Regions from separate parts of the Homo sapiens genome. Here region 1 is linked to region 2. The links come from fine-mapping of genetic effects on gene expression. A gene starts in region 2. The other region holds a variant in brackets. All regions are shown on one strand. Distances are from middle to middle.

Region 1 (2,808 bases), 150 kb before region 2:
TAAGGCAGGCAGATCACCTAAGGTCAGGAGTTCAAGACCAGCCTGGCCAACATAGCAAAACCCTGTCTCTACTAAAAACACAAAAATTAGCCAGGCATGGTGGTGCACGCCTGTGATCCCAGCTACTGAGGGAGGCTGAGGCAGGAGAATCACTTGAATCCAGGAGGCAGAGGTTGCAGTGAGCTGAGATCGCACCACTGCACTCCAGCCTGGGCAACAGAGCAAGACTCCCTCTCAAAAAAAAATTTTTTTTAATTAAAGCCAACTTTCTTAGTTAGAGAAGAAAATGATTTAGTATTCACTAATCAGGGAAGATTTTTTCACATCACTGATGTCTGAGGCAGCTGCTCCCACACAATAGATTCTAATGGAATCCAGCAAAATATATCATTCTTTTTTGAAAGGGAGTGTGGGGAAGTCATGTGCAGGGAGTGTGGGGAAATCATGTGCTACAGAAGTGCCTGGGCTCCTGATGGGTCTTTTCTTTCAAGCTGCTTTTTGAAGTTATTTTCACATTTTCTCTTAGGTTAAATTTCAGAGGTTCCTAAAATGGAATGCCTAACTTCTTGATTTATGAGTTTACTTTGGGAGAATACAAATTTATTTAACAAACACTTATATGGCAATTACCATGTACCAGGCATGGCCTTTAACACTTTATAATTAATATTTCAATTTGTCAGTCAAATCCTGACTTACTCAGCAGACCTCCAGATCTTACGAAAAAATAAAAACTCTAAAGAAAAACAATTAGGTTTGCTGTTCAGAGTCTGAGTTTCCTATACAAAGGGAAAACATTGACCAAAGGAAACAAATTATGTTATATGTAAATCAACAAAGAAAGCTCAAAACCTGTATGGGAATATTTTTTTCTTCCCAACTGCCTGAGACAAAGTAGTGGCCTTTGGTTGTTAGATTTTACCAGTGGTAAGACATTAGTTTCCCTTGCACAGGAGATCTCCTTAACCCTTCACTCATTCAACAAGTCTAAAGATGACCTCATGCTATTCTATGCCACGCGGCACCCTGGGGAGTTGAGAAAACATAGCACCCCCTAAATGGGCATCAATGCACCAAATGCTGGATTTGCTTTGGATAAACCAAAACTTCAAATCTGGGTCGTGTTACTTCCATATCCCTCACAACAATACAATTTTTTT[C/TC]CCCCAAGAGAGACTCTCACTCTGTCACCCAGGCTGGAGTGCAATGGCATGATCTTGGCTTATGGCAACCTCCGCCTCCCGGGTTCAAGTGATTCTCATGCCTCAGCCTCCCAAGTAGCTGGGACTGTAGGCGTGCACCACCATGCCTGGCTATTTTTTGTATTTTTATTAGAGACAGGGTTTCACCATGTTGGCCAGGCTGGTCTTGAACTCCTGGCCTCAAGTGAACCGCCTGCCTCAGCCTCCCAAAGTGCTGGGATTACAGACATGAGCAACCTCGCCCGGCCAACACTACAATTTTAAACTGAGGAAAAACTTAACATTATAAAGAATAATTAAAGTCCTCTAAATCCTCATAGAAAACCAGAAATGTCTGACAGCAACATATAAATGAGTGCTTCACAAAGCCACTGTGACTTCTCTTTCCATCGCTCCTTGTACCAGGATGTGTATTAGTTTCCTATGGCTGCTATGATAAATTTCTACAGGCTTAGTGGCTTAAAACAACACACATTAATTTTCTTATAGTTGCAGAGGCCAGGTGTCAGAAATTGGTTTCACTGGGCTAAAGTCAAAGTGTTGGTAGAGCTGATTCCTTCTGGGGGAGACAGGGGAGAATCTGTTTCCTTACCTTTCCTGGCATCTGCAGGCCTCCTGCGTTCCTTGGCTCGAGCTTCCTGCTTCAGTCAGCACATCTCCCGCTCCCTCTGTGGTCCCATCTCCCTCTGCTTCCCTCTGATGAGGACACTTAAGAATATATTTAGGGCCCAGCCCAAAATCCAGAAGAATTTTTCCATCTCAAGATCTTTCTTTACCTTAATCCCATCTGCAAGTCCCCCTTGCCATATAAGGAAACACCCACAGGTTCCGAGGATTAGGACAGGGATGTCTTTGGGAGCCCGTTATTCAGTGTACCACAGGGTGGTTGACGTTTTTATATGTTTGTGTTTCAACAGAACTCACCTGGTATGAATTCTTCATTTTGGCTTTCTATGAATATTTTATATTTATTTTTAACATTCCCCTTTCTCCTTCTTATCAATATTCTGCCCTGAAGGGATCCTTTCATCCAACGATCCTTTTGTAGACTAGCAATACCTGTGAGAGAGGACAGTGCCTCCAGCTTGGGTCCTCAGAAATTAAAGAAAAAAATTAACTACAAAAGGGAAGCATTCAAACAAGAAAACGGATTTGAGGACAACGTGACATAACCAGTATGAGACCAACAGCCGTTCTAAAGGGACACAAACCTTCTGACAGTAGAAGAGTGCAAAGTAGTTCATGTTTGCCTTTGGCTAATGTTTTCTTTTTGTACACGTTTATTTTTCTTAAGTAGACTCCTTTGCTGTTTTTGAGGAAAGAGCTGTAAGCTAAGATTTAACTTCATAGCCTATTTTCAATAATGCCCATCCATCTCTCTGTGGGATAAAAAATAGGAGGATGATTTTCAGGGTAATCATGGCTTCTCCTTGATGCTTTTTGTTGGGGAAAACCTTCTGACTTACTTTCCCACTGGGACACATCGTCAGTTCTACAAGAGCCTGTGTCCACATGGTTGTTTGGAGGAAATGAAGGATGATTTGAGTCTGAGAATTTTAGCATTGCACCTACTGTCCAGCTTCCATAAAAATTCAGTGCAGCTGTAAGC
Region 2 (2,803 bases):
CCCAGGTCTCTAACCTCCCTCGAGACATTCCAAACCTAGGAAAGGCGGCGAGGGAGAGGGACCAGAAGTTCTGGAAACCCTTCGAATCTTCAGTTTGCGCGAATCCTACCACAGTCAGGAAGCAGAGTTAGGGTTCTTATTCTTGAGAGCTCAATGCCCGAGTTTCCCCTGTTTGAGAGCCGAAGACGCGGAAGAGCCGCGGAAGCCAGGCGAACGCTCAGCCGGGTTAGCCAGCTCTCCGGGTCTCCCGCGCGGTGGCATGGCCGCCAGAGCCCTCTGCCCTCCCCGCCCTCTGGGGGCCCCAGGCCCCGCCGAGCGCGGGAAGCGAGGGACCTGGGCACCCAGTGCCTACGGCCGCTGTCCTACCAAATACAAACGGCGAGATATTTGCGCTCCGGACGCCCTCACTTCTGACCCCGCGCGGCGCACCTCCAGTTGGGGCTGGCAGGGACCCACTCCCCACCATTCGGCGGGACTGGGCCCCGCACCCCGCGCCTCGCGGGGGCTGCCCACCCGCAGCGGAGCCAGGTGAGCCCTGCGCGCGCGGCGCACAGAGCCCTCGGACCGGTGCGTCCAGAGGAGCCCAGCTGTTCCGGCCCCCAGCCTCGCTAGGGGCGCGGCGGGCGCGCCTCACCTGCTTGCCCCGGTAGAAGAGGCGCTGGCATTCGGGCCGCACGTCGAACAGCGCCCACACCCGCTCGCGCAGCTCCTCAATCGTGGCTTTGCGAGACACGTCCTCAATGGTGCACGTCTTGGAGCCATCAATGGTGCGAACCTGTATCCACATCTTGGCGCCTAGAGAGGAACCGGTCCCCTTTGTCTCCCCCTGAGCTCTGGGCGCCGCGCCCCGCCCGGCCCGCGCCGCTTTCCCTGCGGCTCGGGCCCTCAGCGGCAGGCGGGCGAGCGCGCCCACCGGACCGACCGGACGCCGGGCCCGACAGGCGGCGACGACTCTCAGCGCGCGCGCCCGACTAGCCGACTTGAGGAGAGACGACCGGAACCACTCTGAGGCGCTGCCGCAGACACCGCCTCAAAGATAGGAAGAGGCCATGTCTGCGCCGCGCAGAGTGTTTACTTATAGAGCTGGAGCTCCCACATGGAGGTCACGGCGCCAAGCCGGATCTCGCGAGATCCACGCCGGGCTCCGCCTTAAAGAGGAAGCGGCCCGGGAGAGGGTTACAGACCCGAGGGAACGAAAATGGGCAGGCGCGGAGAGGGCGGGTCGGAGGGGCGGGGCTACCAAAAGCCGTTACTTGCCCCACCGCCTGCACCTGGCCACTGGGCACGCCCTCTAGCCTTTGGGTTTCGGAAGATTGCGCGGCTACCACATCGGTTGCCGTTTTGAGGCCTCGTTTCAGAGCTGAGGGGGCGGGTGCCTCCTCAGGCTTAGCGGATATGGTTCTTTGGTCTCAAAAACACACCAAAAATAAGAAACCCTGGCGTGCACTTGTATAATCCTGGAAAGGGGGCGCGGGTGGGTGCGGCCTAAACTTCCGAGAAAGAACTGAAGGAAATGTGTGCGCTCCACCGCGCTCAACAGGAAAGCTCCCGCCACGCGGCCTGGCGGGTCGGGTCGCCCGGGAAAGGCCCCGGGGGCCCTCCTGCTTCGCGAACACGTTTCCCGCCTGGCCGCAATGCTACTTTCGCGCGGAAACCCACTTCCGAGGGTTTCCCGTCGCCTGGCGGAGGCGGCAGCTCCAGGCCTATCCTCAGGCCGCGGGTCCCGCTGGGATCGCCCTCTCTGGCTTGCAGCGCTCCCAGCCGGCCCTCCGGCCTTGGAGAAGTCGGGGCAGCTGCCCGAAAGGCCGCTCTCTAACTCCGGACATTTCCGTTCGTAGACTTTCCGCGTTAGGGGTGCCTTTGGCCTAAGGGATTGCGGGTTTGCGGGAAACAGTTTTAAATAATGCAGAGCTACGCGCCTCCGAAGAAAGAACTCCAAAGACCCTACTAGGATTAAACCCTCAGAAGTGGGCCCAACGCAGCACTACCTAACAGGGCTTCCCCCACCCCCCACCCCGCCTTCTTAATCCTTCCCTGCTACAGCTGGGGAGTCGGGGTGGGGGTGAGTGGGTTTATTTTATTTTATTTATTATGTATGTATGTATGTATGTATGTATGTATTTAGAGACGGAATCTCTCTCTGTCGCCCAGGCTGGAGTGCAGTGGCGCGATCTCGGCTCACTGCAAGCTCCGCCTCCCGGGTTCACGCCATTCTCCTGCCTCAGCCTCCCTGGGGTAGCTGGGACTACAGGCGCCCGCCACCGCGCCCGGCTAATAGTCTCGATCTCCTGACCTCGTGATCCACCCGCCTCGGCCTTCCAAAGTGCTGGGATTACAGGCGTGAGCCACCGCGCCCGGCCAAGTGGGTTTATTTTAAATGAAAATATGTCTTCTCAAGAAGGGAGAGAGGATATAAACGTAAACAAAACAAGACAACTTGGACTTCACATTTGCCAAAATCGGTAACTTAAATATTCACATAGGTGCTAATTATTCCCATAAAGGTACAGTACCATTTTTTTGTAATAAACTAATAAACAGCTAAAATAATTACAAGCACAGACAAATCCAGTAGTATATCATGAAAAAGAAGAGAAAGGCCGGGCGCAGTGGCTCAGGCCTGTAATCTCAGCGCTTTGGGAGGCCGAGGTGGGCGGATCACTTGAGGTCAGGAGTTCCAGACCAGCCTGGCCAACATGGTGAAACCCCATCTCTACTAAAAATATTAAAAAACTAGCTGAGCATGGTGGCAGTTGCCTGTAGTCCCAGCTACTCGGGAGGCTGAGGCAGGAGAATTGCTTGA

The links.
Region 1: its variant is fine-mapped to the expression of UHRF2 in tibial nerve (GTEx, PIP 0.97).

Annotation. Positions count from the first base shown.
Region 1 is chr9:6,560,006-6,562,813 of GRCh38, reverse strand. The region is part of intron 16 of GLDC (glycine decarboxylase); the gene reads left to right. Among named protein-coding and RNA genes, the nearest start is that of GLDC, 84 kb to the left of the region's middle. The variant C/TC (reference allele first, on the strand shown) is at 1,161.
Region 2 is chr9:6,411,475-6,414,277 of GRCh38, reverse strand. UHRF2 (ubiquitin like with PHD and ring finger domains 2) reads right to left here and starts at 1,079. Exons shown (of 16, transcript NM_152896.3): 1 at 635-1,079. The coding sequence starts at 787. RefSeq lists silencers at 262-691, 762-941, 1,222-1,361.